7 linked regions of the Homo sapiens genome follow. The protein of the gene in region 6 interacts with the protein of the main gene of each other region in a pairwise test. Each region holds a gene or a part of one and is shown on either strand. Other genes may lie near its edges. The genes, in order: PIGF, ANKRD46, PTPN1, SERP2, ARL6IP6, TIMMDC1 and AGR3.

Region 1 (3,500 bases), on a different chromosome or scaffold from region 6:
CCAGATATTCCTGTTTCTCTGACTGGAATATAAATAAAACCAGAACACAATCCAGAAAAGCTTGCTTTACCACAAGCAGATCAAATCGGTATTGGGCTACAAGGAACACAGAACAAGAATCTCTTAATACATGTTCTATTTTAGATAATAAAGTGTATACTGTATTGTCTTCTCATGAAATTTTGCTCTAACAACATCTCCACTTTTAGAAAATGCCATATTCCCTTATCTGATTTATTGCTTCTCTGGGAGATGCTGTTCTGTGGAGTTAGAATTATTAAAAAATAACAATAACAAAAAAACAAACAACCTTGTTTGCTGGAAATAAAAAGTGAAAAAAAAACCTCATTTCTTTAGTTTATTAGTAAATAACTGCTAAAAGGGCAAGGAGCAGATGAGTGCTATATGAATAAAAGATTTTTAATTATACATCAATTCTATCATTCCCTCAACAATACATTTCATAATTTAAAAGGTTTACAGTGAATACGTGGGTCATTAACTTGGAATATTCTAAAAACAACCCAATAGTAAAGATAATTACATGGCCAGTAATATTCCAGCTGAATGAAACACTCTTAATGGAAACCAACACTTGTTATGTATTTAAATTAGATTTAAAATTAAATTAATTTCCAGCTACCTAGAAAATCTTTTTAAAAAGTCAGTAATTCAAATGGAAACTTTACATTAATTTAAAAAGTAATACCATCAATTTGGATCTAGTTCATCCTTATTGTTAACAAGCACTGAGGGAGAAAAATGGGTCATCAGCTAAAAGCCTGAACAATCCCAAAATGGGTGACTGAACTGTAAATAATTAAGATATATATTTTCTAAGCAAACCTAAACACATATTTTATAAAGCACATATATTCATTCCTCTTAGTTCAGTTTCTACTACTGCACTGTCTTGTAAACAGAAAAGACTTAAATTATGTGTAATATATCAAACCTTTACACTCTAATGTATTGCATCATATACAAAATGATTATTATATCTTACCAACTCATTAAAGCTAATGTCCCATAGTACTTTATTTATCAATACTTTCTATTTAGATTTAATTGCATTACTTGATAGCAATGAATCTACACAGTTTCAATTTTCTGTGTATACTTTTCAATGATTTTGATTGTCCTCCAATTTAGAAATCACTGACACTCTGTTGAATGACATCAAGTATGGATGACTTCTATAAGATGTCAACTTAAGAAACCTTTACTAGCACCAAAAACTTGAGATGGGAATCTGTGACGATACACACACCAAACCTCCAAGGATTTCTCTAATATAGTGATGAAGAGTTAAAACAGGGAAGGGCAAACCTATCAGACCTATTAAACATGAAACAACAATTTGACTTTCGGGGAGACACGACATCTAACTGAAAGCACAAAGAATAGAGCTAAATGTAGGCAGTTATGTGCAAGGCACACAATCTGGATCCCACATTTGGCAAATGAGGTATGTATCAAAGATTTAATTCATCAATTCATTAGGTAGGACTCTACCCTACAGAGAAAATTGGACAAATATGCAAAGATGTATAAGTATGATAATGACCATATTTGATAATAAAATAATAATAGTAAAATAGGAAATGACCTAAATGTTCTTTAATAAAAAACTGGTACAATATTTTACACAAATAATCGAATATTACATATATGTAAGTTTTCATTGACATAGAATGAGCTCCATAATATACTGCTGAGGGGAAAAAGCAGATTAAAAACAACATGAATATTATAGTTACAGGCATGGAGAGAGACAGCTGCAAAAATTATCACCAAAAGCAAATGGAGGTTTCCTCTGGGTGGTTGGGGAGGAAAGTAATTTTTACTTTCTTCCTTAGAATTACTAATATTGCTTTAATTTTCTAAATAAATATACATTATCTTCGTGATCAGAAAAAAATTATCTTCATGTTGGAAAAAGAAAGCACATTTATTTTTTAATACCATAATTCTTTTTGGGAGTAATTACTCTGTGAACCTAATTAGAAAAATTCAAGAAGCTATAGATTCAAAGATTTTATCACAGCAGTGTTTATTATCACAAAATACTGGCAATAATCTAAATGATCAATAGTGAATTTGTTAAATAAGTTATAAAGTATATAATGGCATACTACAAAGTCATTAATATTAAGATAAAGATACAGTCATCACTGTAAGTTCAGTGACCTTGGGAATGTTACATACCCTCTAGGTGTCAGTTTCCTCATCTGTAAAATGGGTATAAAAAGAGCACTTACCTCACAGTGCTTTACCTAGCATATCAGCTTTATCTTATTGTGATACAAGACGAAAAATCTGATGTTTGTGAGCTTTCTTGATAACACAGGCCGCTGCTGCAAAAATTACCTTGCTATCTGCTTCTAAAAATTTCAAGAGGAACATTCAATTTGGCCATCAATCAAGTTCAGAAAATATGAATATAAGACCACAAGGGCAATAAATATCAAAGTTGAAAATAGGAAATTTCTGCAGCTATTAACCTAGTTTTTAAAAATTCCTATACTGGCTGGGCTCGGTGGCACACACCTGTAGTCCCAGCCACTTGGGAGGCTGAAGCAGGAAGATCGTTTAGGCCCAAGCATTAGAGGACAGCCTGGGCAAGAGAGTGAGAACCTGTCTTTTTTAAAAACAATAAACAAACCGCCTATATACAATCACAAAATAAGCTTGTTTATTCATCTACACATGTGCAAAAAATAGTGCTAGAAGATAAAACCAGGGCTACCTAGACACCTGTGGCACTGGACAGTCCCCATTAAGAAGCTGCCCAGATTACAGTGACTGATAGAAGTGGTATCCCTACTTAATTGAACAACAAAACAATTTACATATACACACTAGTTTGCTTCATCTGTTTTACTATCATTGTACAAACATTTATTTTGTTGCTTTAAGTAACTGAAACCAACCTGCCATGGTCTTTCCCAATCCAGTGGAATAGGAAGTGCTCCAAGCCATGCTCCTACAAAGCTAGAAATTGTAGTGATCTGGAGACTATTCTCCCATATGGATGTAACTCTGTGAAACACAAATTGGTACATCGTTGGTGGTATATACATGAGCTGCTGGAGAATCCAACAAGCACTAGCACACATTATCAGTATACATATATTTCCTGCTAATTTAAAATGAAAATCTCAAAATGACATATACATATTTACCATGAACTATTAATAGTTAATTGGTAAGAAGATGTAAATGTTTTCCATTGGAAAGGTAATATACAGACGCACTAGGAGTCAAACCATGTTAAAGAGCATTTGTAGAAACAGCTAAGTCTTCCACCCCTATCATCAACTCCTGGTTCCTTTCCCCACAGGCAACTGCTATTATGCTAAATTATTACATATTCTTCCAGAAATATTTTATACAGGCACAAATACACACATAATTTTGTTTTGAAGGATATATGTACATTTGCATAAATACACATGTACATATGTATATTTCTTCAAAACAAAACTCAGATGCATCAT
Region 2 (3,500 bases), on a different chromosome or scaffold from region 6:
TAATTCACATCCCATAATATTTACCTTTTGAAACTGTACAATTCAGTGGCTTTTCATATATTCCCCAAATTGTACAACCATCTCTTCTAATTCCAGTACACTTTCAGCACCTCTATAAGAAACTCTGTACCTATTAGCAGTCACTCCCATTGCCCCTTCTCCCAGCTTCTAGTCTACTTTCTCATCTACTTTCTGTCTCTATGGATTTGCTTATTCTGGACATTTCACATAAACAGAATCATGTAATATGTGGCCTTTTGTGCCTGGCTTCTCCAATGTAGCATGTTTTCAAAATTTATCCATGCTGTAGCATGTATCAGTATAATATAATAATATTAGTAATATTCCATTGGATGAACAGATGATGTTTATTCCTTCATCAGCTGATGGATATCTGGGTGGTATCAATGTTTTGGCTATTATGAATAATGCTGCTATGAACATTCATATATAAGTTTTGTGTGGACATATGTTTCAATTTTCTTTGGTATATTCCTAGAAGTGGCACTGCTGGTCAGATGGTAACTCTACGTGTAGCTTTTTGAAGGACTGCCAGACTTTTCCAAAGAAGCTGCTCTACTTTCCATTCCCATCAGCAGTGTATGAGGGTTCCAATTTCTCCACATCCTCCAGAGCACTTGTTATTATCTATCTTTTTAATTGCAGCTATCCTAGTGGGTGTGAAGTGGCATTTCACTATGGTCCTCATTTGCATTTTCCTAATGACATTACCTTTCAACTTTCTGATTTAAGCTTCAACCACTGAATTTCTACCATGACACTGAGGGGTAGGAGTAAGATAGGAAAACTAGGTAATAAAAGTGTTAATAACTCAATTTTTGAAAAACGAGCTTTATACAGTGTTACAATTAATACAAACTCTCATGCTGCAGTGAAATGGCAGGTATGTGAAGGAAGCAGGAGTACTTCCACTGCTCATCCAATGGAATATTATTTTGTACTTATCACTTCTTAGTAAGTAATCACAACTGAGGCAAACTAATGCTAAAAGTATATTTCTAATAAAAGGGTGCCAAGAAACTGGCTATTAACAAAATAAAGATCCTAAAAATATACCAAACAAGAACACATTCTTGGTTGTTTTTCATGGTAAAGAAGCTTAAAGTACTTAATGTTATTTCATAAAAAGATAAAAATAAATTTCAAGTTATCTTAGAGGAAAAAATCTTTAACAAATAATAGTTAACTCAATATTGTTAAAGTGCTTATGCCATTCTGTCAATCCAAAGTACAGAGGAGAGAAAAACAAGGGCTTGCAAATACATCTCTGACTTCTTGATTATCTATTTGTCAGCTTTCAGTGATCACTCAAGAGGAGTATGCACTGTTCCAGAAGTAAAGCTCTTGGATTTCTTTAGGACTGTATTAAAGTGCTTGAAAGTATCTGAACAAAATAGACCTAAGCTTGAGAGTGGAATTAATGGTCCCCAAAGAGCACATCATCTGGCACACGAGAGGAGGAAAGCAAAAATGGGTACAAAGGAATCAAATGAAGGGTAAGCTATGAAAAACAGAGAGGATTTCATTTAGAACTCACAGAAACAATGATCCCAATGGTCTAAGTGGATTATGTGATTCTAAATCCAAGTCCTAGTCCATCAGCTACTAGGTAAACAGCTGATGTGGGCCCTTGCTTATTCTATTTACAACCTACCGAGAATACTGGGAAGAGGCTATGGAAGCTCAGCATCCTTTTTCCTTCACACGTATAATGTGGAAGGCTGAAACTGCATGGTGGTCAACCAGATAATATGCTACTAGAACTAAGTCTGGCCTATTAACTTTACCTGTTGAGCCCAGTGACATCAGGAGAAAAGATGGTGCGCCACCTTTTTGGAGCTCTCTGAACTGCATTCTCCATTGCTTCTAGATGAGAAATGATGAGCTATTCAAGACCCTGTCAGTTACCACATCTTAGCTTCGATTACTCACAGGAATCCAAATTTCATTAGCTCCAACTCATATGAAAGTCACTTTCACTTTCACATTACTGAACTGTGCATGTGTTAAATACTATCTTGCTTTCCCTCTCTTGTTTTCTTGTTTCTCAGCATTCCACTTCCCTACCCTTGAAACTACCTTTCAGTCTTTTCTAAAATTGCCCAAGTTCTTGGCTTTACTTATACTTCTCTTTTTTTTGAAATTCCATTCTTTTTGTGACCTGTACTTAAAATCATCAAGCTCCGGCTTCCTCCCCTCAGATTCATTTGTTACTATTTCTCCTTTGTACTGTCAATACAGCAGGTGGCTAACAGAACATTATGCGCACATGACATGTAGTACTTTCTGTTAATAGCTTCTCAATTGTAATCTGCAGTCATAAGGTCCTATATAAAGTTCAAGTTGCACTTAAAAGCAAATGAATATTAAAGTTCACAAAGTTAACCATAAATCCACATACTTAAAGTGACTTTCCCCTTAAAAAATCGTATTATCTTGCTGGGTGTGGCTACATGTGCCTATAGTCCCAGCTAGTCAGGAGGCTGAGGCAGGAAGAATGCTTGAGCCCAGGAGTTCAAGGAATGAGTAATACAGTGAGAAAAAAAAAGTTGTATCTCCAGTACCTTTCACTCTCAGCTGTTTGCATGGTCTCCAGTTTCGAGTGGGTTCCTCTGTTAAATCCTTTCACCTCCTGTTCTTCCAAAGATTCCAGCAATCGGATGACATCTTTATTTACTCCTCTGCGCTTTGCCAGAACTAAAGGGGTAGCACCTTGATGATTGCTAAAAAAAAAAAAAAAAAAAAAAGTTTATAAAAATAAAGAAGCCATCATAGCAGTTATACTACATTGTCAGTTCCATTTTTAGTACCCACTTATATAGATCTCAGTGAAGAAAGAATGGGCCCAATTAGGGCCTACCCTAGGGCTGTGGGGAACTAAAGGAGTATTTGGCTCACTACAACTCTTCCACCATGAGCCTTGACCATCTGGCTGCAATCAGATGTTGACTGATGGGATTTTTGCACAGTTCATCACAGAGGCCGTTATCCTGTTAACCAAACACGTCCCCCACCTCCAGACCCCATCCTCACACTGAATGTCTCCTCAACAGCAGATTATGGTAGAAGTAATAGCCGTGTGCCTCTATTTTTTTCTGAATTGTACTATAGAAAGTGTTTATGAAGAACAAATCACCAAGGGGAAAAAAAGGATGGGTCCAGTTTAACTCAAAAGTAAAACCCAGAGCTGAGCCAAACATCCAGTGTAGCTGAATTTTGAATTAACCCTTGTTTTTCTTTTTTTTTTTTTTTTTACTTCCAGGGAAAAGAAAAAAGAGAACATATAGTCAAAAAAGTGGATAAATCTAGTTCTAGATTCATTCTTATTTGATATTTACATTTTATGAGACAAGTACTTTTTTTAAAAAAGTCTAAGAAAAAAATGTCAAATAAGCTGCTTCGGTTCACGCAGCTATTTAGCGCTAATAATAGGTTAGAACCCCAATCACATTAAATCCTGCAGTCAATTCCTACCCCAT
Region 3 (3,500 bases), on a different chromosome or scaffold from region 6:
ACCATTGAAGCAATTCTGCCACTTGGCATGGAGGCGCTAATTACATGGCAAGACCCCCACTTAGCCAAAGTGGGTGTGGCAGCTAAAAGCAGGAACTTAGAAGAATGTGAAAAGATGAATTAATCCCACACTTCTAACAACTAGATCTTATAATGCCTCAAGACCCCAGAAACAAGAGACTGATCTGACAGGTTCCACCCCACCCGTGCTGGGGTGGGCATTCCACAGAGTGAGCAGACAGAGAAGGAAGCGAAGAACAGAAATGCAGGAGGAAGAGGCCACCCTTCCTCATCTCATAAGCAGGGCAGACGAGTCTTAAAGCTCACCTCCAGACAGCAAGCACTCACTTTCAAAACCAAACCTAATGCTTAATAACCCTCTGTAATCTGGGTAAAGACTAAGACTTTGGAACTGTACAAGTGAGGAATTCTGTCATGCAACTAAGTGTCAATAACCCAATATTTATTTTTAAGGACTCTCAGGTGTCTACAGCAACAAGCTATGCTCTGTCATTTCCAATAGAAATTTTTGTTTTAAACACACAAAATTTTTAAAAGGCACAAGATCACATTTCCAGTTACCCTATTACATTGATATATACGGCCATGAAAAGTAGATGGATTTTTATTAGAACACAGTACTTCACCAGGCCTCAAATTGAGTCCTATCTTGGGCTGGTACCAGAGGAACATGGCAGTGCCAACATGCTAGCATCTCTCATAGTTGCTGTTTCCACCATGAAGGCAGATGTTAAACAGTCCTTGGGGCCTTCCCAAACAAGTGGGCAAGTGGTGTTTGGAAAACCTATGAAAGACATCTACAGTAACCCTGTGACGGGTAATTTGGTTTCGCCAAAAATTATTAACACAGAGAACTAAGTAAGTAATTCTTAACACAGAGAACTAAGTACGAGAGAAAAATGAATTATATGGACCCTGTGATACAAAATGCAGTGTCTTGTGCATGAAAGCACCTGAAAGCAAACGGCAGCTTTAGTGAGGATTTCAGGAGGGAGATACGGGTGAGATTCTGCAATGGCCAATTAAACTCACCTTGCTTACTTCCCCCTTCTAAACAACAATCCCAACCCTTACGCCATGGTGCAGCCTACACTGAGGTGTCTAAAGTCAATCCTTAAACAGAACCAGTGAGAACTCTAGCCATCTGGATGACCCCAGTCTAACACACACAATCATCTTCTGCATAACTGGTTTCCAGGAAGCCCAGGGTCCCAAAAGATAACAGGCATGTTTGCCAAAAATAAGAGGGAGCATCCTACACTATTTGGTGAAGGAAGGAAATCAGAAGACAAGTATGCATTAAATGAAAACTCCCCAAAAGCTGGTTTTACCACAAGCTGTGTGGATCATTTATAATTAGATTAGCTGAGCAAATAAGATACTGTAACTTCTCATGATTTCTCCCAGCCAGCCCTCTGGGAGGGATAATGCTGATACAGAATTGAAAATGTTGATCCCAAAGAAACTTTAACAATCTCAAACCATACATTGCTTTTCATGCCAATCTGCACGCCCAAGTAATCCTCCAGTGGAATGGGATACTTAACAAAGGAAAGCAGGGACTGCTGGCACAGTTATCACAGTAAACTACAGCAAAGCCAACCAGCCATGTTCTCGATGCCACCACAGTAACCCAAAGGGAAAGGTTGTCACAGTGGATCTGTGGGCCATTTGTGGTCAGTCTTGAGTGGGAGACAATGAAGCACAGGGCCTGGTGAGGCTGGAACACATAACTACAGCACTGGACACTGCTCAAATACATAACTACAGCGCTGGACACCACTCCTTGCTGTAATGTGACAACAATTGCTAAAGCAAACCTTGTGCTCACAGCAAAGAGGTTTTGCCAAACACTTAGCAACAAAGAAATAAATAAGAAGCAAATGCTACTATATCTGGTAATTTCTGAATAAATGTCTTGATTTAAAATTCCCAACCCTCAATACCATCTAGAGCGGTGGTTCTCAACCGGGGGCAATTTGGCCTACCAGGGGACGTTGGACAAAGTCTGGAGTCTAGACAGAAACACATCTGACTGCCACATCTGGGGAGGGGGTGCTACTGGCATCTGGTGGATAGAGGCCAGAGATGCTGCTAAACTTCCTACAGCGCCCAGCACAGCCACTCCCTGCCCGGATCCCTAGCAGACAATGATCCAGCCCAAGTGTCAGTAGTGCTGAGGGTCAGAAGCCTGCAGATGGAGCTATGCTGAAGGCTTCCACAGGCCACCAGGCTTCCCCTTCCCTCTAAGACAGTGTGTGCTGTGAGCACCTGATGCTTTGTTTCTTTACTCAAAATTGCTGACTAGTGGTGAAGGGTGGGGGTTTGCTTCACATTTGTAACTTCACATTTTACTAATCAAGCTACTAAGGAGGGAAGAAAAAATTTAAAAACCACCTTTCACTGAAAAAGTTTTTTTCTAAGACAAGATACATTATATCATCAACAGAACACTTAGGCAAGCTCCCTGTCTGTTATTGTTGGGCAAATAAACACTTTCATTTTTTAAAAAGTAGGCAAGGGTAAAAAACCCCCAAAAAACCCCAACCCCAAAACAAAACAAACCAAACCCCTATGATTTTAAACACGCGCTGTCCTAAGAGGAAGACTTTCTGCGAGTAACTAAAGCCGTTTCTTTGTGTGTGGTGGAGGCAGAGGCTTCGTGGTTAATGCTTCAAGTTTTCACTGCTGAAGTTTCCTTTGATGTGTTCCTTCTTAACACTTGGATTTTTTACATTCTAGGGCCATGACTGTGCTTTTTTTGGAAAGGTGGCCTCTCTGGAGCCCTCACCTTCTTCTGTGGCCGGAGGCAACCAGGACAGCTGTGAGAGCCGTGTCCTAGCTGAGCCTGGACCTGGCAAGGCCCAAGGACACCCAGTTCCCTGCTCCTGGGCCACACGCTCCTGCTGGTCTCCACGATCCTCAGCCCATCTCCTCCTGGACCCCGCAGCAGGGTTGGCAGTGTTGGGGAGCAGCGAGGGCAGGGAGGCCGAGGAGCCTGTGGCCCTGCTGAACACTGGCCTGCGCCTGCACAGGCAGATGGTCTAAATGGGATGGTCTACACAGGATGGTCTACACAGACAATCTACACAGGACGGTCTACAGAGACAGTCTACACAGGACAGTCTATACACGACGGTCTACAGAGACAGTCTACACAGGACAGTCTATACACGACGGTCTACAGAGACAGTCTACACAGACAATCTACACAGGACAGTCTACACAGGACAGTCTACACAGACAATCTACACAGGACAGTTTACATGGACAGTCTACACAGGACAGTCTACACAGACAATCTACACAGGACAGTCTACACAGACAATCTACACAGGACAGTCTACACAGGACAGTCTACACAGGAGGCCGGCTGCCCAGAAATCGGCTATTCTCAGCTATTCCAACAGAGTGAGGAGGGCAGGGGAGAATGCAGGCAGTTGGGGAGCTGGGGGCAGCCGTCCAGGGGTGCCTGCAAGT
Region 4 (3,500 bases), on a different chromosome or scaffold from region 6:
CCAACATATGGGGATCAGGAACCATGTCAAGGCTAGTTCAGCATGTAACTAGAAACAATGGCACGATGCTTCTGCTCATCTTCCCTGCATTTGTGTGTATGTGTGTATCTGCATGTGTGTAAGTAAAGCTCTCAACTTGCCACCTTACAGTATCAGGTGACCCATACCTTAAGGCTTGGGTCAAAGGCTCAGTTGTATCTAGGAAGTTGTATCTAGGAGCTCTGCAGAACTTTCTCATAAGGCATAAGGCCTCTCCCTTTCTCGGAATGTGGATTTATCACAGGCACACAGGTGTTTCACCTTCTGTTCTAATGCCCTTTTAAGGCTATGTCTGCACAAAAAGACTTTACTGAACTCTACAGTGTATACAGCCACTTTAACTACTCAGTGTAATCATTTTATGATTAGGATTTGATAGTGTATTAATTGTGTCTCTACCTATATTTGGAATAGAAACTAAATCAAAACCCATTAAGATTAAGGCTTAAGGCAGTGATAAACTTGAATCCCATACCAGTATGTTTTTCATCTATTTGCTTTGTGAAGAAAACGTGTGTTTTTCAAAGGCCAGTGGAGAACATGGGATATAAGTTCAGTGAAACACCCATACCTGAGCCACAGACAACAAAAACAAACAGTGCCAACAGCCATGGTCCCACAGGATATTTCTCCTCTTGCGGCCTCTAAAAGGGAATGGGAAAAAGTAAGATTAGGTTCATTGACTCAATAAACAATTATTTGAGTATCACTAGGCATTGTGCTAGGTGCTGGGGATTCTACTGCGAATGAGACAGACTTGGTTTCAATCCCTCAGTGGACAGATATAGATGAATGAAGTCCATTAAAAGGATTGAGACAGGTTTGTAAAAATTCATCCATAACCTTATTAACATCCCTGTAACTCAGTGAACTTGGTGGTCTTAAATATTCTGGGGACAGATATGGTATGAATACATAAACCAATATGGCGATTTAGGAACCAAAATGATATTAATAATAACTTTCCATCTGCTGAGTAATGCTCTGTGCCAGGCACTACACTAGGCAGTCTGCATTCATTATTTCTGGCAAGTATTATTATTTCCATTTTGGAGTTGAGAAACTGAGGCTCAAAGTTTGTTAACTTGAGCAAGAGCTGGGATTCAAATTTAGGTCTGCCTCATTATAAAGCCTGAGTATTTTCCATTAACAGATTCAATATTTAGTTTTTGCATCTGTGAATTCCAAGCAGGATCAGAGAGCACAGACATTTTCTGAAAACCTTTTACATAACCCCAAATTAGGAAGTCAGTACAGTGGAAATCCTTGCAACAACAGAAGCACCACAGCAATTGTGAATGGTTATGAGTGAAGCAGCATTTTGTAATAAAGCTCCTAAGCCTTAATAAAGCTTGCACTTGGGAGAAGTCTCTGAATTCTCTGGGAAGCAGAAGGGGACTGTCAAAACTGCATGAATGAAGCCCTACAGACCTCCTGCTTTTTCAAACCAAAAGCACAGACATAATAAGATCTTCCCTCCACAACACCTCCAGGTCTATGTGCAGGTAGGGCTTGGTCCTTAAACCCAAATCAGTCAGAACAACAAATATTTTCTGAGAGATGCATCAGAAAAGAAGTGAATTTCTCAAATAGAATGGGAGAGTGAAAAAAAAAACAACAACAAAGAACTCACTAATTATTTTCTGATTAGCTTGAAAAATAGGCTGCATTCAACACACGTTAAAGAATTCACATGCAAAACACACAAAGAAAAACGTGTTGGTAGAGTGGAATGTTCACAAGTATTGATTTGTGGTTGATCTCATAAAACCCAATTCCAGATTTCAATTAAATGTTGTTGACATTTAAACATTGTATTCAACATTGTAAAATATGGGCTAAAAGGTATGTTCATATCCATACAAATACCACAGCTTGACATTCAGACTGAAGGTATGTAATAGTGTTTCAAAAAAAACGAGTGGTGCTATCATCAAGGATGTAAGTTTTTGAAATGTTGAACAAGTTTTAGTAATGTTTCTAACAAAAACTTCTTTAAAAAAGGATAATCTTCCTTTGATTTTCACTGTAGTTGCTTTCCTAGAAAATTTATCATATATTAAAACTGTAAAATCTATGATGTGTTGTATTTATATGTAAAATTAAGTTCTAGGCTAATGTAAATGTAAACTGGCTTCTCATCTAAAAAAGGAATTTATTTTATCATAGATAAGGCAACAGTTCTTTAGTTTTCAGCTTACCAAAGAGCCCTTCTCTTTTACCTCACTTGGGTCCACTCGTCACTTGTATGGCCACATACTTTTTCTTGATAGCATGTGTCACAGTTTGTAGGTCTATATTTATTCTTGTGATAATTAATGTGTTTAATATCTGTCTCTCTATGAGACTACAGACCCCACAAGGGCAGGGACTATGTCTTGTTCATGTAGTAATATATAGAAATGCCTGCCACAGAACTTAAACATAGGAGATAATAAACGTTCATCAAAGAACAAATAAACATACAAGTTTCATTAAATAAGATTTCTTAGGTTAGGCAGAGTAAACACAGGTTCTAGGAAGGATATTGTCTTTTTAGTAATAATTCCTAATTGGTGTAGGATTATCCCTGTATCTCTCCTACATGAGAAATATGGATTAAAGTGTCAACGGCAGGTAGACTTTGACTAAGGATTAAGACATTCACTTCTCTGTCCTTGACTAAGCCTGTATCTACCACCACTTACATGCCGGCAAGTCACACTGCAAAGGAATCGGTGGCTGCTCTTAATCAGACGAGGACAAGATCAGTCTTAAATAATTGCATAAGATAACTGTGCCATTTTTTGGCCCTTAAGGCCAGGCCAAGTTCAGATCCGGTAAACAACATTCATAAAGCTACCTGAACAAAGTGTGACATTCGCCCTTCCCACCCTCTTCCACCACCTTCCCAGGAACTTGTCACAGTTGCCCAGAAACCAGTTCTGTTGCTGTTGTGCCACTGATGCTATATAAAAAAATTCATTTTATCTCTATTTCCAGCAAAGCTAATAAGTGAATTCAGAAGCCTGTAATGAATTACTTGCCCAGGACAGATACCAAATAGAGTCCTTTATTTTTCATATGCAGAAAAAACAGATGATCAGCATGTAGAGCTTGGACCATATAACACAAAAACCTTTTGGATGACATTCTCCATGGAATCAACATGATTTGGGGACTTTGGCTGATCATAGTACCCATATATCTTTTTTTTGACAGCTTTGGGTGACTACTTTTTAGAAGGGGTGCCCAGCACAATCCCATTGGGACAATTCACATAAACCTTACTCTATGGCTGGAAAAGGTGGGGAAAACTAGTAGTGATTCTGCAAATGACATGGTTTACTCCAAACATGAGTTTGCTACTTCTTGAGGCTCCAAAAATGTCAGGGAATGGCTTTCCCTGTGATTAAGATACCCGTAGGGTAACTCAGAACTCTGAAATTTAAATTCCCCCTTCATTCTGGAGAAGTTACTAC
Region 5 (3,500 bases), on a different chromosome or scaffold from region 6:
TTGATGTGATCACTTTAAATTAAATCATTTGATTTGATCACTGTAGATAGGTGGTTGAGACACTATGACACATGTCCTCCCCTCTCCCATTCTTTCCTAAACTCTCTAATCTACCACTTTATGGCTAATCACCCTTATGGTGACACTAAGTATAGTGTACCTTATTTCAGCAGAAGGGGAAACATGAACCCTTTATCTTCAAATTGCAAAGAAGTTGGTTTCTTAGATATTGCATGGAAACTTTTGTCTGTTCTTGTCAACATCTTGCATGAGAAAACATACTTTTTAGTTACTCATTTTATCAGTGTATGTTTTTACATTGTTTTATCTCTAGAAATAAGCCAAGATTATTAGGCTTCTCAGAGCTTTTATTGATCTGTCACCTCTTGATGCAGTGGAAACAGAATCTTATGAATTAGGCATGAATTCTAAACCTTTTGCTGTTTAAAAGTTGTCCTGATTTCTCATTTAGGAGTAGAATGACGGGCAGTTGTTATCTGAAGGAATGGCTTGCTCAATATCAAAAGGAATGTGATAGGTCTTTTGACATGGTCCTGCTTCCTTTTCCACTTAGGGTTAAATAATCCCATGTTGCTTTTAGGTATGCATGATAGATACTTAATATTTTTACAGCAAATAGGAAAATCATTAAGATTTTGCTAATGGCATGAATTTATTGTCAAGAGTCAGGAATGAGCAGAAAGTGTTGTATCTTTATGGTGAAAAAAACCCAACAGCTATGCCAAAACAAAGCTCATTATTTTGAACCAATGGTCAGATGAGCTCCAGTGGTCAGATGGAGAATAAAAATAGTTAATATCATTTAATGGGCTAATTCAATCAGTTTCCTGGGGGTTAATTTTAAAGAATAGTTATAGCAGATGTATGTATTATAACATATGGATAGAGAATAGTTGTCTCTACCAGAAGAGGATTCTTAAAAATCTGTTTCAGTGAAACAGGGCCAAGATGATTAAGCTCTTAATAAGATTGAGGTGATCGGCCACGCGCGGTGGCTCACACGTATAATCCCAACACTTTGGGAGGCCGAGGCGGGTGGATCACTTGAGGTCAGGAGTTCGAGACCAGCCTGAACAACATGGTGAAACCCCGCCTTTACTAAAAATACAAAAACAAAATTAGCTGGGCATGGTGGCACAGGCCTGTAATCCCACCTACTCGGGAGGCTGAGGCAGGAGAATCACTTGAACCGGGGAGGTGGAGGTTGCAGTGAGCCAAGATTGCGCCACTGCATTCCATCCTCAGCAACAGAGCAAGACTCCAACTCAAAACAAAACAAAAGATTGAGGTAATTGTGGCAACACCTGCCTTTTTTTCTAAGCTGCAATTCTCTACTGTTTTCAAGAAAAATACAAGTTAGCCTATTTACAGAATGTTTTGAATTGACTCCTGTCCTCTGGTTAAAACTCCTCTTGAGATAATTGATAGCTGAAAAGGTAGGATGGTTCTCTCAAACTTGACTTCCATCTAAATCAACGCTGAGTTGATTAACTTAGATATCAAGAAAAATTGCCTCATTAGTTTACCCCTGAGGAGATGCCTATGAAGTTACATCCTTTTTACAATTAATAAGACAGTTTTCACATGAAGAAACAATTTGAAATATTTAATAAGAAAATGTGTTGAAGTCATCCATTACGTTTGGGAAAAGTACCATGCAGCCTTTTATCAGATGATAACGATTTTATTATATTTCACTATTTATTTTGCCCTGTTTATTAGGAACCTCGTAGCCAAATGTAATAATGTTTGATTGTTTTGTATATTACTCTTTATTTCTTGGCATACTTATTATTGCCCACACATGCTATTATCTTAATATTTCCGTGACTCATATTTAAAATTTACTGCAAATTTCCTCATTCTTTGTTTGAAAGTAGGTTGGTTTTTAGAAAAAGCAACGTGAGCACAGTAACTGCTCTACCATGAAAGAGTTCTCTTTCTTTTTCTAGACAGACTGACAAAAATTTTGTACACTGCAGAATTTAATTGCAATTTAATCCTAGTCCAAGATTGGCATGGCAGTCAGTAAGAACAGATTATAGCAGCAATTCTCATTTTGGTATGGGTAACAATCACTTGGGGACTTGCTTTTTTAAAAGCACCTGTAGATTTTGTTTTGGCCATCATGATTTCGTGATACAGAACATTAGAAGTGTTAAAAAAAGTCCAAGAGAAAGGATGTGTGGGAGGTGGCCCATTCTCTTAAAAAGACACAAGTTGAGTAAAACTCAGTTTCATCCTTACAATGAAAATTGATTGAAACTCTGAACTTGAACTTTTTAGCCAGTGTGTGGACTTTATAATTTGAACCTATACTCTATTAAGAAAGTGTTACAGTGCTATCTGTGGCTGGGTGGGGTAGCTCTAATATTTCATCTAAAAAGTCACAAATATCCTATTCTATAGCACAATTTTTGTAAAATTGTCTTACCTATTTGTATTATTCAAGAAATGATGACTAAGGCCAAAAAAAAAAAAAAAAAAGAGAGAAAGCCAAAAAGGACTGGAAGGATATAATCAAAATGTTAGTTTATCTGGGTTTCCGAATTGATTGGTTGTATTTATTATTTTTATTTTCTACAATGTATAAGTGTAACTTGCAATAAGAAAAACTTTAAGGGAAAGCACAAATTTAAGTTTAGAGAATAATGTTTCAGTAATTAACAATAACACCATTTATTGCACTTTTACAATATGCCAAAAGCCATTAATTTGTGTGTTATTTCCTCTAGTATTCTCAACTACACTGTATCCATCAATGTTATTTTCTTCTAAACCAAAACTCAAGAAAGTATGTATTATAATTTTTATACCATAGATAGTCTAGGTAGTATAGCAAGGCAGAAAAAGAATGGGTTATCAGCAAGAATTAGCCATGTGCAGCTAAATTATTAGTCATGAAATTATTACAGGACTCTTCTTAACACATAAAAGCAGTAATAAGAACCAGACATTAGGACCCCTAAATCTCAATAAATTGAGTTGACATTGTGTGGTACTCTGTAGTCCAACTTTGGTGGTTGGGAGGGACGTTTCTTAGGCTAATGAAGTCAAAAGTTAGCTGGCATCAGAATCACCTGAAAGATAAATTTTGCTGCTCTTCACATGGTGCAGAATATCTGACTCAGTAGTGTGAGATGGAGCCCAAGAATTTTCATTTTTGACAAGTTTTGAGTTGATGCTCTGCATGCTGCTAGTTAGGGGGCTATATATACTTTGAACACCACTGGCCTAGTAGTTCCCAAACCTGACATAAAAAAAAAAGCAAAAAAACGAAGACCCTGGAGATTTTCTTTTTTTGCTTTTACGGAATCTTAGACCCTATAATTATCTACTGAATCGAAGTAACTTAATTGGCTGTATGTGTCAGTGTACACTGTACAATCAGGGCTCATTGGACCATTTTTCATTTCTGAATTATTTCGAGCAGTTCTGTTTGTAAGGATTGAAATTTCATGACTTATTCTTTCTTAGGG
Region 6 (3,500 bases):
AGGAGTTCTTTAAGCATTTCTTATAAGGCAGTCTAGTGGTGATAAATTCCCTCAGTGTTTGCCTGTCTTGAGAAGACTATTTCTCCTTCATTTTGGAAAAATAGCTTTGCTAGGTATAATACTCTTGGCAGGAGTTTTTTGGGTTTTGTTTGTCTGTTTGTTTGTTTTTTCCTTTTAGCACTTGGAATGTATCATCCCATTCTCTCCTGACTTGTAAGGTTTCTGCTGGCAAATCTGCTGTTAAACTGATGGGGGGAGGTAAATGGTGGCAGTGGACCCTGGATGAGCCAGTCTTCAGGGGGTGCACGTGGCAGCTCAGCCACTAGAATTGGCAGGGTTGCCAGTGGTGGAAGACTCCAGGTGAATGACCTTAGAATGGCCATAGCCAGCCATTCTTAAGCTTTTCCATCTCAAAATCACTGATCTCTAAATCACTGACAAACTTCTGCAGTTTTTAATGTTTCATTTACTTTTTTAATTTTTTTTTTTTTTTGAGATGAAGTATTGCTCTGTGGCCCAGGCTGGAGTGCAGTGGCGCAATCTCAGCTCACTGCAACCTCAATGCTTTTCTTCTCATATAGCACTTAAGTCCTTGGATGATGGACCTACAGCTCTTAAGAATTTCCGTGTGTGTGTCTGTGTGTGTGTGGTTAGCAGAAATGGAGGTTTCAAATGAAAACACTGGAAAAAAATGATTTCTCATCTATCCAATTATAATACCAAAACAGCAACAGCAGCAGCAGCCAATGCTGTCTTAGGTACCCAGGAAGGTGAACTAGTGAAAATCATTTGTACTCAGGAGCACTAGATGGCAGCCTGTTATATTCATCTTACATATTGAATCTGTGCAAAGTCAGCTATCAGTCTGATTGCCCTATCCCACAAATTGCATCCCAGGAGATGATTAGATGCAATAGGTGAAAGTTTTCATGTTCCTCAGTGGCATTCAGTGCATGAACAACCATTGTCCACCTAATTCCTCTGCATCTACAGCAAGAAATAGAATTTTTGTGGAGACTTAACATGCTGTGTCTTACTTACATATGTATGCAAAAAAAAAAAAAAAAGTCACTTTTTTTCTTTTTTGAGACCGAGTCTTGCTCTGTGGCCCAGGCTGGAGCACAATCACGGCTCACTGTAACCTCCGCTACCCAGGTTCAAGTGATTCTCCTGCCTCAGCCTCCTTGAGTAGCTGGGACTACAGGCACGTGCCACCATGCCCAGCTAATTTTTGTACTTTTAGTAGAAATGGGGTTTTGCCATGTTGGCCAGGCTGGTCTCGAACTCCTGACCTCAGGTGATCCACCTGTCTTGGCCTCCCAAAGTGCTGGGATTACAGGCATGAGCCACCCTGCTAGGCTAAGGATGTCACTTTTTAAGTAAGCCAGGTAAAGCTCACTCCTTGGTGAATATTCCCTTTAGGTAATTTCCTATGCAGTTAAGAACACAGGAAAAGAAAAAACATGCAAGCAAGATTTACACCACTTTTAACTTAAAAAGATATCCAAAGAAAGATCTTCATTAAATTAAAACTAAAATCAATCTCTTTCATTTTTCCATTCTCCTTAAATAGATTAAAAGACAATGTACAGTATGAGTTGAAGGACTTGGTAAAAATAAACTCTTCTTTGAATTGAGTGGCAGTTTAGAGTACATAAGTTTAAAAGAGCACCACTATATAAGGCCTGGGGCAAGAGAGCCAAGATTCCCTGGGCTCAACATGTTCCTTACCACTCTTCCAGTTTTAGCTCATGGAGTGCCTTTCGATCCTTCTGTTTTCTTTCCTGAACAGTCTCACCAGAGTACTTCTGAAATGCCATCAGCAGGCCTCCTACAGGAGTGCTGAGAAGAAAGGAGAGGGAAAGCTTAGGAAAAACGAGTCATTAGACCTTGCAACATGTGAGATTCTCTGCTAAGGTGTGAGCAACACCAGAGCCACTTGTTCACTATTAGGTACAGGAACATTTGAGAATTAAAGTGTCCTTGTCAAATAAAGAAAAACATTGAGGTAATCTCTTCCTTGGTCTGAACAACAGACAAAAACAATCACTACAACCTCCTAAAGTTAACTGATATATAATAAAACAACAGATCTAGAAACTGGCTGTTTTTATGAGGAATGAGAAATAAATCAAAACAAAGAGGAAAAATATATATATTTATGACAAGTTCTAGTAAGTAGCCCCACACCAAAGATTTCTCAAAAATGAAATTTCTAGTTCAGAATGGCACCAGCTCCTCTAGGAGACAGGAAATGTGGAGGGCATTTCTGGTTGAGGGAGGGATGCTACTGGCTTTTGGGGGTGGGACCACCAAAATATCCTGAAGTTCAAGAGTCTGGCGTAACTGTCTCACCCACAATGCCAATAGCAACCCATTGAGAAACTGATTTAGATAATAATTATTATAGTGATGAAGAGAGTTTGGTTCTTGTGTTCTCAGACTAGAAGTATTTGACCTTCATACACCTTAAATTTCCTCCAGCTACAATTTAAGTAACCTCATACTAATAACTATTTTTGCTAAGTGGAAGCAACATAAATGTTCACTGACAGATGGTTAAAGAAAATGTAACATACACATACAATGGAGTATTATGCAGCCTTAAAAAAGAGGGCAATCCGTTCAACAGGTTACAACATAGATAAACTTCAAGGACATTATTATGCTAAGTAAATAAGCTAGTCACAAAAGGACAAATAGTGTATGATTCCACTCATATGAAGTATCTAAAGTAGTCAAAATCTTAGAAACAGAAAGTAGAAATATATTTGCTGAGGGCTGGAGGGTATGGGGAGGGGAAATTAGTTTTTAATGCATATAGTTTCATTTCTCAAGATAAAAAAGTTCTAGAGATCTCATGCACAATGTGAATATACTTAGCATTTTTGAACTATACACTTAAAATATGATTAAGATGGTGAATGTTATGCTATGTGTTTATTACCACAATAAAAAATATTTTTGTTGCTAACTCCTACAACTTTTCCCTTCAAACCAAACTGGTATATTAACACTACAACAAAAGCAATGGCAGCAGTAGATTATGACATGCTGATTTTATTTAATTCAAATTTTTAAAAAAATCATTAAATCTATAGCATTACCTTCTCCTTCAAAGGAGGTAGACAAAGGGGTGAACAGGTGGAGGACGAAGGTAGCACTCTTCTAGTCAGACAAATACCAACTAATAAAAACAGAAGAACTGACAGAACTAGCTTATCAACATTTACAACCACCTTTCTAGTAACCAACCGATTACAGCATGGGTCGTCAATGGATCATTAAAAACACATGATGAAAAGATAGCTGGAGAGCAGAATATTCAGTTTCACCCTCCAGATTACTAATTAATCACATTGGGAAAAAGATATCTTTGCAATGGAGACACTGAACAGATAACACCTTAACCAAGTGTGGTAGGCAGAATTCTAAAGTGGTCCCCCCAAATATCCTGCCTAATCCCTCAACTGTGAATATATTATGCCCATGATTATATT
Region 7 (3,500 bases), on a different chromosome or scaffold from region 6:
CAACATGATCTTATTTGAGTTTCGTCTTGTTGGTGTGAACACTACAGGGCGGTTCAGAAGCAGGCTTCGTGTGCCCTGATCCAGCTCTTTTTTAATTATACAGCACCATGCCCAGGAGGCTCAGAACATGACTTCTCACCAACTGAGCATGTACTGAGTTGATTAAGTATTTTAAAAATAAAATGTGAATGAAAGTTCTATGTGGTTGGTTATACCATGTCAAACCAAAAAAGCTGAACAGTCTGTCATCACAGTATTGGTCCAACTCTTAGCAAATATCTTCTAATAATAGCTTGAAGTAATTCACTGGATTCTGAGAATTCCTTTCTGTCATCTAGCTTCTTCTGAGAGAGTCTCTAGAAGACATGATGCTACACTCAGCTTTGGGTCTCTGCCTCTTACTCGTCACAGTTTCTTCCAACCTTGCCATTGCAATAAAAAAGGAAAAGAGGCCTCCTCAGACACTCTCAAGAGGTGCTGTAATCTCATTTTATTTTCTAAACTCAGTCATTTGGATTGCTTTTTAAAATATCTGGTGTCTTCACTCATAGTCTAATTATAAAGCAAATTCAACTAACTGAATGATTTTTGTTGTGTGTGACTTCAAAATGGATTTTTTAAAACAGAAGGAATCAGTTTATTTTAGGCAGTGAATCAAATCAACTAGCAAACAATAACATAAATTTGCATTATCTTTTGCCAAAATAATGGAGAATTGGCTCGCTGTCTATAACTTTGGTAACCAGAGTCCTAGAAAATAATGATTGATTGCTGCGTCATATTGGTGTCCTAATAGCAATTTAAGATTCCTCAAAATTTGCTCAAATTCCCAGTCCTCTATTTCCCAGTCCTCCAAAAAAAAAAAAATTGGAATAATTTTATATAAGCCTTCCCAGAAAATTATACTATACCCCAAACTCTGAGAATTCGGGGTAACTAAGTCTTTGCTATATTGACTCTGGAAGACAGTGGTTTTAGACATAATCAAGGATTGCCGGTGGCTACATGTTTAGAAACATTTCTTTTTGTACTTACTGTTTTACTTGGCCCAAGAAACAAATATATATTCATCTGTAAAGAAACATTTTATTAAAAAAAATTCTCTCTTTTTTTTTTTTTTTGAGACGGAGTCTTGCTCTGTCACCCAGGCTGGAGTGTAGTGGCACGATCTTGGCTCACTGCAAGCTCTGCCTCCCGGGTTCACGCCATTCTCCTGCCTCAGCCTCCCAAGTAGCTGGGACTACAGGCGCCCGCCACCATGCCCGGCTAATTTTTTGTAGTTTTAGTAGAGACGGGGTTTCACCGTGTTAGCCAGGATGGTCTCGATCTCCTGACCTTGTGATCCGCCCGCCTCGGCCTCCCAAAGTGCTGGGATTACAGGCGTGAGCCACCGCGCCCGGCCAAGAAAATATTCTCAAAGTTAGTTTCTATATCTCTAAGTAACAGAAGTAGGAACAGAATTATTTGTCCCCATATAGCTATTCAAAATCAGCAGTATTACCACAAAGTACTTGACCATTTGTTTGCTCCATTCATATTACCACTGCAAATAGTAGTCAAGTGCCTTGGAGTAATACTGCTAGTTTTGAATAACCAAGTGGGAACAAATAATTCTGTTCCTACCTCTGATATATATATAAAATATATATAATTATAACATACAAATTATATATTATATATACTATATATTATATATAATATATATCATAGTATACATTTGTGTTATATTATAATAAATTATATATAAATATATGCTATAATTATAAATATATATTATATAATTTCAAATTCTAAAACACTGACTTGCTTCCCAAGTACATTCATTTCTTAACAGATGTATTGAGTGCCAGCCAAGTGCTCATCAATGTTTACCTAAGCTAATTAACTCTACTTCAGTTTAACAAACACACAATCTATATATACAGAAAGTCAACATATTTTTGCAAAAGAAAGGAATGAAAAAGTTGAAATATTTTCCTAAACATAACTCTATCTCTCTGTATAAGCATAACTGTTGTAAAACAATGAGCTCAGTAGCCCTAAAGTGACAAAGACTAAACTAGTTATTGCCCTTAAAGATTTTCCATGTCTGCATTAAGCAGCACTGTGATAACTATACGTCAAGGCATCAACATTCTGTGTGCTCACTTCTAAATATTTATTTAAAACTCTTGTTGAATGTTTTGAAAAAATATATTACATTTGTATGCCCTATTTTAAACAACTTAAAGGTTCTATTATTTCAATTGATAAGAAACTAATTTAACACAGAAGATGACTGATATTAGCTGAGAACACCATTATTGAGAATTGGTTTATATTTGGCAAAGTCTTTTACCATCTATTGCTACATGGGAGATAATGGAGAGAATGAGGCTCAGAATGAATGAAGATTAAAGGTAGGGGTGAGTGGGAGAAGTCTGGATACAGTATAAAGAGTGGCATATGGAGCCCCTTAGAGCACAGGGCAGCACTAGTTAAGTAGAGAAGGCAGTAAGGAGAAAAGGAAGATTAATTAGAAAAAGGTAGAAGAAGGTTCAGGGAGAAAAAAATACACACACATAGAATGATCCAAAAAAAATCCAATTTCCTTTGAATCAGAATTGCTGAGTACCTAGTCCAGTGATTGGCGGATAGTAAATATTTAATAAATATATGTTAGATAAATGAATAAAATCTCAAAAGACAAGAAAATATAGCCAGAGATAGAGATAGGGCTAGAATTAGAGTAATGAGCAGAAGCCATGAAGTGCATTTAAACTGTGTAACAGCTTTGACCTATTGTGATTATAACAGAGTAAATAAAAAATCATTATAATGCAATATGGCTTTTCTACAGAGCTATGGACAATTTGTTGAGAATAGGGATTATATTGCTCTATGTTTGTATTCCCACTGCTTTGTGGAGTAAGTTATGCAGCAGATGTTCCTTTACTGTTTGTGGAACTAAATTGAGCAGGAGCAGAGAATAGAAATTTTCCCCACTGCTAATGCTCCATCATTGAATGATATTTGCAACAGAAGAGGGAAAATTCAGCAGAGGCCTCGTCTCACTTGCTGTTTTAGAATAACTTTTACTTAATGCAAAATGTGATGTATAGATATTGCATGTGTTCAACCAAAGTTGGAAAGAGAATCTTTCAGGATTATTACAGAGAGCAAGAGTTCCTGTTAAGATGTGGCATTAAACTAACAAGAGATGTTTTTCAATGTTAAGATTTTAAATCAGGCAAAAAAAAACAAAAAACAAAAATGTTGCTGGTGAGTATATAAAATGATGCATCTACTTTAGAAAATAACCCGGCAGCTCCTCAAAAAGCTAAATACAGAGTGACCATTTGATCAGCAGTTCCACTCCTAGGTATATACCCAAGATAAATGAAAATATATACCACTGAAAAACTTGTATATGTATGTTCATAGCATCATTATTCATAAAAGACAAAAAGTGGAAACAACCCAAATATCATTAACTGATGAACAGATAAATAAAATATGGT

What was found.
Region 1: the proteins of TIMMDC1 (region 6) and PIGF interact in binary tests that used the Homo sapiens proteins (3 or more experiments, as listed by UniProt).
Region 2: the proteins of TIMMDC1 (region 6) and ANKRD46 interact in binary tests that used the Homo sapiens proteins (3 or more experiments, as listed by UniProt).
Region 3: the proteins of TIMMDC1 (region 6) and PTPN1 interact in binary tests that used the Homo sapiens proteins (3 or more experiments, as listed by UniProt).
Region 4: the proteins of TIMMDC1 (region 6) and SERP2 interact in binary tests that used the Homo sapiens proteins (3 or more experiments, as listed by UniProt).
Region 5: the proteins of TIMMDC1 (region 6) and ARL6IP6 interact in binary tests that used the Homo sapiens proteins (3 or more experiments, as listed by UniProt).
Region 7: the proteins of TIMMDC1 (region 6) and AGR3 interact in binary tests that used the Homo sapiens proteins (3 or more experiments, as listed by UniProt).

The regions. Positions count from the first base shown.
Region 1 is NC_000002.12:46,589,542-46,593,041, forward strand, and holds part of PIGF (GPI ethanolamine phosphate transferase, stabilizing subunit), read right to left. Parts: intron 3,043-3,500; coding exon 2,934-3,042; intron 2,385-2,933; coding exon of another isoform or gene 2,367-2,384; exon of another isoform or gene 1,606-2,366; intron 1-1,605.
Region 2 is NC_000008.11:100,525,260-100,528,759, forward strand, and holds part of ANKRD46 (ankyrin repeat domain-containing protein 46), read right to left. Parts: intron 2,745-3,500; coding exon 2,586-2,744; intron 1-2,585.
Region 3 is NC_000020.11:50,569,383-50,572,882, reverse strand, and holds part of PTPN1 (tyrosine-protein phosphatase non-receptor type 1), read right to left. Parts: intron 1-3,500. UniProt on the Homo sapiens protein: Tyrosine-protein phosphatase which acts as a regulator of endoplasmic reticulum unfolded protein response. Mediates dephosphorylation of EIF2AK3/PERK; inactivating the protein kinase activity of EIF2AK3/PERK.
Region 4 is NC_000013.11:44,376,824-44,380,323, reverse strand, and holds part of SERP2 (stress-associated endoplasmic reticulum protein 2), read right to left. Parts: intron 684-3,500; coding exon 611-683; intron 1-610. UniProt on the Homo sapiens protein: Interacts with target proteins during their translocation into the lumen of the endoplasmic reticulum. Protects unfolded target proteins against degradation during ER stress. May facilitate glycosylation of target proteins after termination of ER stress.
Region 5 is NC_000002.12:152,721,620-152,725,119, forward strand, and holds part of ARL6IP6 (ADP-ribosylation factor-like protein 6-interacting protein 6), read left to right. Parts: intron 1-3,500.
Region 6 is NC_000003.12:119,515,547-119,519,046, reverse strand, and holds part of TIMMDC1 (complex I assembly factor TIMMDC1, mitochondrial isoform 1 precursor), read right to left. Parts: intron 1,843-3,500; coding exon 1,732-1,842; intron 1-1,731.
Region 7 is NC_000007.14:16,875,484-16,878,983, reverse strand, and holds part of AGR3 (anterior gradient protein 3 precursor), read left to right. Parts: intron 1-338; 5' UTR 339-365; coding exon 366-474; intron 475-3,500. UniProt on the Homo sapiens protein: Required for calcium-mediated regulation of ciliary beat frequency and mucociliary clearance in the airway. Might be involved in the regulation of intracellular calcium in tracheal epithelial cells.